Homo sapiens: one gene and its partners. The protein of the gene in region 3 purifies or fractionates together with the protein of the main gene of each other region. This does not show direct contact. Each region holds a gene or a part of one and is shown on either strand. Other genes may lie near its edges. The genes, in order: DUS2, ARMC1 and DHTKD1.

Region 1 (2,502 bases), on a different chromosome or scaffold from region 3:
GCTGGGCAGGGGGCACATTCTGATGGCCAGGCCCCGGTGGTGTTTTGGTGTATGTGGTAGAGGAGTTTCTCAGTGGTGGGGCCCTGGGGTCCTGCAGTACCCTGGATGCTGGCTCCGCTAAAGTGTTTGCTCTGATCTGCTTCTTCCTCCCTAGTGAGGCCTTTGGCCTTGGTGCCTTCTATGAGGAGACCACACAGGAGCTGGATGCCCAGCAGGCCAGGCTCTCAGCCAAGACTTCAGAGCAGACAGGGGAGCCAGCTGAAGATACCTCTGGTGTCATTAAGATGGCTGTCAAGTTTGACCGGTAGGTCTCCAGCTTGGCCTCAGCTTGGGCTAGGGCCAGCACCCTTGGGGTCCCACTGGGCCAGCACACTGGCTGCTGTATGTGCTTAATGTCAAACGTAGGGACCACAGGTCTTGTTGGTTTGGAAACTCGTTCTAAATTTTCAGCATCCCATAGAAGGTGCTTTCAGGGGAGATAGTCCCTGAAAGGCTGTCCCAAGGATAACTGAACTCTACTTTTTCCCTGATTTACCGCCTCCCACAACTCAGGGCAGGGGGGACTTGTCTCCTGTTCCTGAAAGTCTGTGCTTTTCCAAGGCCCTGAGGAACTGGCTCCTGGCATGAAGCTCCTCAAACAACAGCAGGACCCTAGCCCTCATTTGGCTCTGCAGCCCCTACCCACACCCAGTGCCCCTCACCAGCTCTGTGGTGCTCTCTCAAGCTGCTTACGCCTCAGATTGTGACTCAGCTTTGAATGGTGCCCTCCTCTGGGATCTGAGCCTTTCTCCAGTCCCCAGGACCAGACAGGAGCCAGTCTTGTCTGGCAGAGGTGTGGAGAGGGGGAGCAGGGTGGTGGGGAATAGCTGTTGGGCAGTCAGATGCCAGGGAGAGTTCCAGTTGGGAAGTTGGAATATGACCCCTCCCACCCTGTCACTGTGTCACCCTGTCACAGGCTGACTCTGAAACCAGATTCCAAGTGTCCATGGCTGCAGCAGATGATCATGACACTTGGCAGGCGGAATCAGGATGGGCGCTGAGCTAGATCCCCGAGACCATTGTCTGGCTACCTCCATTGCCCACCTCCACCCACTCCCTACTAATCTTGTCTTGAGTGGCAAGCTTCCTTCTTGGATGTTGAACATTGTTTTTCCAGTCTGGACCTCAGAGTACTGGGAGTTCATTCCCCCTTCCCTTACAATTTCTTGAGCATGCCAAAATTCATCTTCCCTTTAGGGAGAACCCAGGTCCAAGCTGCTGGTAGGACAAGAATGGGAGCCTAGGGGAGCAAGTACAGAAGCCTTAAGGCAGCAGCTCGGTGTCTCAGTTCCTCTCATTTCTGCAGCTCCTTTCAGGAGCTGAGTAGTGCCCTGGCTGAGGGAGGGAGCGGTGATGGTGGGTGACCCCAACTGCTTCCCTTCCTTTCCCCAGGAGAGCATACCCAGCCCAGATCACCCCTAAGATGTGCCTACTAGAGTGGTGCCGGAGGGAGAAGTTGGCACAGCCTGTGTATGAAACGGTGAGTTCCTGGCTGTGGCCTGCCCTGCAGCCAGTCACAGCACTCCCATGGCTTACACCCTCAACTCTAGATTGCCAGGCTGGAGCCTGGCCTTGACCTCTGTAGGCATGGAGAAGCTGCTGGTGGCCAGGTCAGTTGCTGATAGCCCTCCCCTCTTACAGTGGCCTGTTGTCCAGTTCAGCCAGACATCTCTCTTTTTTTTTTTTTTGAAACAGAGTCTAATTTTTATTTTTTATTTTTTAGAAATGTGGTCTCAGCCGGGCACGGTGGCTCATGCCTGTAATCCCACAACTTTGGGAGGCCGAGGCAGGTGGAACACGAGGTCAGGAGTTCAAGACCAGCCTGGCTAAGATGGTGAAACCCCGTTTTCCTAAAAATACAAAAATTAGCTGGACATGGTGGTGGGCGCCTGTAATCCCAGCTACTTGGGAGGCTGAGGCAGAGAACTGCTTAAACCTGGAGGCAGAGGTTGCAGTTAGCTGAGATCATGCCACTGCACTCCAGCCTGTCTCAAAATAAATAAATAAATAAATAAATGGGGTCTTGCTTTGTTGTCCAGGCAGGCTGGTCTCAAACTCCTGTGCTCAAGTGGTCCTCCTTCCTCAGCCTCCCAAAGTGCTGGGATTATAGGTCATGAGCCTTTTTTAAAAATTTTATTTAATTATTTAATTATTTATTTATTTTTTGAGACGGAGTCTCGCTCTGTTGCCTAGGCTGCAGTGCAGTGGCATGATCTTGGCTCACTGCAACCTCCGCCTCCAGGTTCAAGTGATTCTCCTGTGTCAGCCTCCTGAGTAGCTGGGATTACAGGTGGGTACCACCACACCTGGCTAACTTTTTTGTATTTTCAGTAGGGATGGGGTTTCACCATCTTCACCAGGCTGGTCTCGAACTCCTGACCTCAGATGATCCCCCGACCTCGGCCTCCCAAAGTGCTAGGATTACAGGCGTGAGCCACCGCACTTGGCCCAGACATGTTTTTG
Region 2 (3,500 bases), on a different chromosome or scaffold from region 3:
GAAATGTAAAAATGAAGGTAAATATAAAAGACCTTTTTTTGCTAGGCATGGTGGCTCACGCCTATAATCTCAGTACCTTGGGAAGCTGAGGGGGGCAGATCACCTGAACTCAGGAGTTCAAGACCAGCCTGGCCAACATGGCGAAACCCTGTCTCTACTAAAAATACAAAAATTAGCCAGGCATGCTGACATGCACCTGTAATCTCAGCTGCTAGGGAGGCTGAGGCAGAAGAATCATTTGAACCCGGGAGGCAGAGGTTGCAGTGAGCTGAGATTGCGCCACTGCACTCCAGCCTAGGTGACAGAGCAAGACTCCATCTCAAAAAAAAAAAAAGACATTTTTAAATTTTTAATCTCTTTAAAAGATAATTGACTGTTTAAGGCAAAAATATATACACTGTAGGTTTTTAAACATATGTAGAAGTAAAATGTATGACAAAAATAGCACAAAAGATGGGAGAAAGAAATGGAAATATACTCTTGTGTGATTCTTACACTACATGTTAAGGGTATGATTCATTTAAAGGTAGGCTGTAAGAAGTTAAAGATGCATATTGTAAAACCTACAGCAACCACTAAATAAATTAAAATAAAAACAAAAGTGTATACTAATAAGCTAACAGTGACGAAAAAAGGAAATCATAAAAACAACACACCCAATGGCCAGGCATGGTGGCTCACACCTGTAATTTCAGCACTTTGAGAGGCCAAGACAGGCAGATCACCTGAGGTCATGAGTTCGAGACTAGCCTGGCCAACATGGTGAAAAACCGTCTCTACTAAAAATACAAAAATTAGCCACATGTGATGGTGCGGGCCTGTAATTCTAGCTACTCAGAAGGCTGAGGCAGGAGAATCGCTTGAACCCAGGAGGCGGAGGTTGCAGTGAGCCAAGATTGTGCCATTGCTCTCCAGCCTGGGTGGCAAGAGCAAAAACTCTGTCTCAAAAACAACAACAAAAAAATCTTTTCTTCAGCCTCTTGGGAACTTTCACTCACTGATCCCTCTCCTTAGCTCTGTCCCTCCATGACTTTATACTTCCCTTCCTATTCAGCCTAGTATCTACTGTATATCATTTCAACCAATCCTGCCAAGATCCTAAACTCCCTTGCACAATCATTCTGCCCAACTTAACCTGGCCAAGTAACAACTCTAGACAAATCCAAGTACTTGGCTCTGTGAGCCTACAACAGGCCTGAATCATATCGATTCAGTATTACCAAACTAATCAGCCCTCAACACTGCTGAACAACTTTATCATTCTCCTCAGTTAGCAAATCTTTCCTATTTTCTGCAATTATGAGAGCCTTCCCCTCAAACCTCTCCCATTCTAGTAGCCCTTGCCCTCTGAACTTAGACATATTCTAGTCTATTTAAAAATAAAAAAGACTTACTTCCTTTAGCCCCAAGTCCCTATCTATAGATCAACCCCCTCTTTCTTCTCATCCTTCTTGCATTTCTTATTGAAATTGAACCCAGACTGGGGACTGTGCCATTTTTCCCATTTGTTACTACTGTTCTCTTACACCAATGTCTTTTTTGACTGCTAAACTTCATTCTGTAAAGGCAAAATAGAAATTTTTTTCCAAAAGGAAAAGTCTATATGCCTTCTGTACAAACTTGTGAAATTAGACTAAATGGGGAATCATCACGAGTCCTTAAGTAAAGGGCAATAGATAAAATTTCCAAAACATTAATTTTTTTAACAACTTTTTTTTTTTTTTTTTTGAGACGGAGTTTCACTCTTGTTGCCCAGGCTCGAGTGCAATGGCACAATCTTGGCTCACTGCAACCTCTGCCTCCTGGGTTCAAGGGATTCTCCTGCCTCAGCCTCCTGAGTAGCTGGGATTTCAGGCACCCACCACCACGCCCGGCTAATTGTTTTGTATTTTTAGTACAGACAGGGTTTCACTACGTTGGCCAAGCTGGTGTCAAACTCCTGACCTCAGGTGATCCACCCACCTCGGCCTCCCAAAGTGCTAGGATTACAGGAGTGAGCCACCACGTCTGGCCCTATTTATATGCAAAATATATAGGCATTTTTGCCAGAATAGGCAAATATAGACATACAAAAAGTAGATTAGTAGTTGCTTAGGGACAGGGAGTGTTGGGGTCTGGGAAGCAATAGATAAAAAGTTGTGGTGGGCCGGGCACAGTGGCTCACATCTGTAATCTAAGCACTTTGAGAGCTCGAGGTAGAAGAATCACTTGAGGCCAGGAGTTTGAGACCAGCCTAGTTAACATAGCTACATCCTATCTCTACTAAAAAAAAAAAAAAAAATTTATTTATAATAAATAAAAATAAAAAGTTGTGGTGATGGTGACACACAACTCTGTGAATATACTAAAATCACTTAATTGTATACTTTAAATGAGTGAATTATATGATGCTGTGTGCTTACATCTTAAAAAGCTGTTATAAAATAAAAACAAAATAAGTGCCTCTTTGAGTGTCTCTGTGTATGATATGATCCAATCCTCAAGATTGTTAAATGAAAAGGAAGTGGTAGGACATTCCATGCATGGAGTATGCAACAATTTGTATAAAAGAATAAAAACAAGGCTGGCCATGGTGACTCACAGCTGTAATTCCAACACTTTGGGAGGCCAAAGTGGAAGGATCACTTGAGCTCAGGAGTTTGAGCCTGGCCAACATGGCGAAACCCTATCTCTACAAAATATCAAAAATTTGGCTGGCATGGTGGTGTGTGCCTATCATCCCAGCTACTTGGGAGGCTGAGGTCGGGGGGATGGTTTAAGCCCAGGAGGTGGAGATTGCAGTGAACTAAGATCCTGCCACAGTGTACTCCAGGCCTAGATGACTCAAAAAAAAAAAAATAAAGAATAAAAACAATGTAGCATGTTACCACTGGTGTAAACAGACCACAGACCACACATACATATGTTTGTACCTACATAAATACAAACAACTAATTGCTCTCTTTCCGTTTTTTTACCTTGTCATCTAGCACTTTTTCCAAATTCTCACCTTAACTGCAAAAATAGAACAGAGATTGAAATTACTAAAGGCAACTTACAAGCAAAGCGGAGTGGACGACTGGAGGGTTGGGATGGTCCATAAATAAAATAAGGCCAGGCAGACATCCCTGATCCTGGACGATGGCTCTTCTGTTTAACGGATCTGCTGCTAGATCCCGTAACTGGTTAACTACCGATAGAGCGTCAGGCTCTTCACTCATGGTGGAAGTGGAAGAATTCATCTTCTATGCCATGCACATGAATAAAATCTTAAATTCTGTAGAAAAGGTTTGCAGAATTAGTTCTAGGCTGCTGAGGTATATTATAGCACTTGTGAAATAACCAGGATTACAACACCTTTAGAAAGAATCAGGTAACTAAAACTAAATCACATAAAAACTTAGAAATCGGCAACTCTACAGTTTGAGAAAAGTAAAATGAACGTAAGACGACTGAAAAAATTTGTGTGCACAATGTTTAAAGAACATATGTTGTCCTCAATATTCCAATAAATTATGTTT
Region 3 (3,734 bases):
CGGCTCACTGTAGCCTCGACTTCCTGGGCTCAAGCGATCCTCCCGCCTCCACCTCCTGAGAACCTGGGACTACAGGCGCTTGCCACTATGCCTGACTAGATGGGGTCTCACAGCGTTACCCAAGCTGGTCTCGCCATCTGCCCGTCTCGGCCTCCCAAAGTTCTGGGATTGCAGGCATGAGCCTCCTCACCTGGCCCCAGGGCGTTAGCTTTAAAATCTATCCTGCTTTCTTCTCTCTTTTATCAGGATTAAATATGATAATATATGTGAATAGACTTTATAGTTGAAAGTATGACATGAATGTAGAGTGACATTTATTGTAACACCCAGGTGTTGATGATTGTAGTTAAAGGATGATAGATGCAACCTGAAAGATTGCAACTTTCAGACTGGAGCAACTTTGGGTTCCATACCTTTTTAGATAAAGGGGGGTGCTGATTGGATAGACAGTGTGGGTCAGTCTTGGAAATAATTGTCAGAATTTACCAAATCATAGAAAAACTCTGTTAATTATTTCTATTTGGATGCAGACAAAAACTTATAAATTTGTTTTCTCTCAGTTGCCTGGAAAAGAGGTTGTTACTATGAGTGCCTTCATTTATTAAATTAATTTATTATATTTAACATTGTTTATTTATTTTGTTTCTGTTTTATAAACTTATTGAGATGAACGTGACATAATATAAAATTGGCTGTCTTAATGCGAACAACTCAGTGGCATTTATTTACCTTCACAAAGTGGTGCAACCATCACTTCTGTCAAGTTCCAAAACATTTTTCCTGAATGCCTTTTTATTTTATTTTTATTTATTTTTAATTTTATTTATTTGGTTTTTGAGACGGAGTTTCACTTTTGTTGCCTAGGCTGGAGTGCAGTGGTGCCATCTCGGCTCACTGCAACCTCTACCACTTAGGTTCAAGCAATTCTCCTGCCTCAGCCTCCTGAGTAGCTGGGATTACAGGCGCCCGCCACCATGCCAAGCTAATTTTTTGTATTTTTAGTAGAGACAGGGTTTCACCACGTTGGCCAGGCTGGTCCCGAACTCCTGACCTCAGGTGATCCACCCACTTTGGCCTCCCAAAATGCTAAGATTGTAGGTGTGAGCCACTGCACCTGTCGAATGCCTTTTTAGAGTGCTGACACTCCACCGCCCTTGACAGTGACTCTCCTTGTCTCTATTAGATTGTTACAGGTCAGACTGATTTTTGTTTCTTCTCTTTCTTGGGCAGAGCTCGAAAGAGCATTCCAGACACATATGCAGAGCACCTCATTGCTGGCGGACTCATGACGCAGGAGGAGGTGTCTGAAATAAAATCCTCCTACTATGCCAAGTTGAATGATCACTTAAATAACATGGCCCACTACAGGCCCCCTGCCCTGAACCTGCAGGCCCACTGGCAGGGCCTGGCTCAGCCAGAAGCGCAAATCACCACCTGGAGTACAGGTGTGCCCCTCGACCTCCTGCGGTTTGTTGGCATGAAGTCTGTAGAGGTGCCAAGAGAGCTGCAGATGCACAGTCACCTGCTGAAGACACATGTTCAGGTGGGCAGCCTCCAAATGGCTGGTTATTGCTTCTCCTTCCTGCTCAGCAAAGGAGCTGACGTTGGTCTGGTGTTTTCAGTTGTCTGATTCATTTGACAAATATTTATTGTGTGTCGTTAGGTTCTAGAAACTGATCCTAGTGTTGTTTTGGTACTGATAGTCAGTTACCTCAGATTTTCTCTTCTTTTCTTTTTCCTCCATGTATTTATTTATTTATGCATGTTCATACATTACATGTACCTGGAATACATGCACACTATAAGAAATACAGAGATACAAGAATGTCTGTTTTTATTTTTCCAACCAGTGAGTAGAAAACACTTTGTTTCAGGTGGCTTAAATAAAAGAAACAAAAGTCAACACACATACCCCAAGGTAGCCCCCTAAACATGCTCATGTTTTACGTATTGTCTTAGGATCACTATAGGATGACAAACCACCCTGGTGGACCTGGGACTTAGGGGTTTTCTGGAATGTGGGACTTTAAGTGCTAAAACAAGGAGAGCAAAGAGTTAAATGTCTTTTTCTTTCTTAAGCTTGGATGAAGGAACTTTGCCCTCTAAATTATTTTATTTTATGTTATTTTTGGATGGAATCTCACTCTGTCACCCAGGCTGGTGTGCAGTGGCGTGATCTCGGCTCACTGCAACCTCCACCTCCCAGGTTCAAACGATTCTCCTGCCTCAGCCTCCTGAGTAGCTGGGATTACAGGCATGTGCCACCATGCCCAGCTAATTTTTGTATTTTTAGTAGAGATGGGTTTTCACCATGTTGGCCAGGTTGGTCTTGAACTCCTGACCTCAATTGATCCATCCACTTTGGCCTCCCAAAGTGCTGGGTTTACAGGTGTGAGCCACCATGCCTAACATGAATTATTTTCAAACACTAACTTGGCCAGGCACGGTGGCTCCTATCTGTAATACCAGTGCTTTGGAAGGCCAAGGTGGAAGGATTGCTTGAGCCTAGAAGTTCAAGACCAGCCTGGGCAACATAGTGGACCTTATCGCTAGTAAAGATTAAAAAATTTGCCTGGCATGGTGGCGCATGCCTGTAGTCTCAGCTCCTCAGGAGGCTGAGGTGGGAGGATTGCTTGAGCCCAGAAGGTCGAGCCTGCAATGAGCTGAGATTGCACCACTGTACTCCAGCCTGGGTGACAGAATAAGATCCTGTTTCTCCAAAAAGAGGAAATTAAAAAAAAAAAACCAACCCACTAACTTTAAGTTTTTATTATAGGTACAGAGACTATTACAACAAACTATTAATATGTACTCATCACTCAGCTTAGGAAATAGGATGTTATAAATACAGTTCCCCACATACCCCTCCTTGATCCATCTCCTCCCACCTCCGCAGAGGTAACCACTAACCTAAGCACGTGTTTGTTTTGCCTGTTTTAAAATTGTATATAGGCCGGGTGTGGTGGCTCACTCCTGTAATCTGAGAACTTTGGGAGGCCAAGCCGGGCAGATTATTTGAGTTCAGGGGTTCAAGACCAGTCTGACCAACATGGCGAAACCCCTTCTCCACTAAAAAGTACAAAAATTAGCTGGGCGTGGTGGTGTGCACCCATAGTCCCAGCTACTTAGGAGGCTGAGGCAGGAGAATCACTTGAACCAGGGAGGCTGAGGTTGCAATCAGCCAAGATCACGCCACTGCACTCTAGCCTGCGTGACAGAGTGAGACTGCCTCAGAAAAAAATAAATAAATAAAAACTGTATATAATTGCTCTCCTTCTCTAATGTATCCTTTTGTACTCTGTTTTTATTCAGCATTGTTTTTGATGCTTAATTTCGTTGCTTTTTTTTTTTTTTTTTTTTTGAGATCAAGTCTTGCTCTGTCGCCCAGGCTGTAGTGTAGTGGAGCCATCTCAGCTCACTGCAACCTCCGCCTCTCAGGTTCCAGTGACTCCCTGCCTCAGCTTCCTGAGTAGCTGGTATCATAGAGACACGCCACCAGGCCTAGCTAATTTTTGTATTTTTAGTAGAGATGGAGTTTCACCATGTTGTCCAGGCTGGTCTTGAACTCCTTACCTCAAGTGATCCACCCGCCTGGGCCTCCCAAAGTGCTGGGATTACAGGCATGAGCCACCATGCCTGGCCTGCATTAAATTTTTTGTACTCATTGTGAAAAAGGAAATGGACTCTTAGACGTTCCTTTTTTTTCTTCCTCTGAATTTTACAGTCCAGAATGG

What was found.
Region 1: the proteins of DHTKD1 (region 3) and DUS2 fractionate together in Homo sapiens (co-fractionation; one large-scale study listed by BioGRID). This does not show direct contact.
Region 2: the proteins of DHTKD1 (region 3) and ARMC1 fractionate together in Homo sapiens (co-fractionation; one large-scale study listed by BioGRID). This does not show direct contact.

What each region holds. Positions count from the first base shown.
Region 1 is NC_000016.10:68,075,201-68,077,702, forward strand, and holds part of DUS2 (tRNA-dihydrouridine(20) synthase [NAD(P)+]-like), read left to right. Parts: intron 1-154; coding exon 155-304; intron 305-1,431; coding exon 1,432-1,519; intron 1,520-2,502. UniProt on the Homo sapiens protein: Catalyzes the NADPH-dependent synthesis of dihydrouridine, a modified base found in the D-loop of most tRNAs. Specifically modifies U20 in cytoplasmic tRNAs. Activity depends on the presence of guanosine at position 19 in the tRNA substrate.
Region 2 is NC_000008.11:65,624,178-65,627,677, forward strand, and holds part of ARMC1 (armadillo repeat-containing protein 1), read right to left. Parts: intron 3,257-3,500; 5' UTR 3,222-3,256; coding exon 3,039-3,221; intron 1-3,038.
Region 3 is NC_000010.11:12,096,454-12,100,187, forward strand, and holds part of DHTKD1 (2-oxoadipate dehydrogenase complex component E1), read left to right. Parts: intron 1-1,230; coding exon 1,231-1,543; intron 1,544-3,724; coding exon 3,725-3,734. UniProt on the Homo sapiens protein: 2-oxoadipate dehydrogenase (E1a) component of the 2-oxoadipate dehydrogenase complex (OADHC). Participates in the first step, rate limiting for the overall conversion of 2-oxoadipate (alpha-ketoadipate) to glutaryl-CoA and CO(2) catalyzed by the whole OADHC.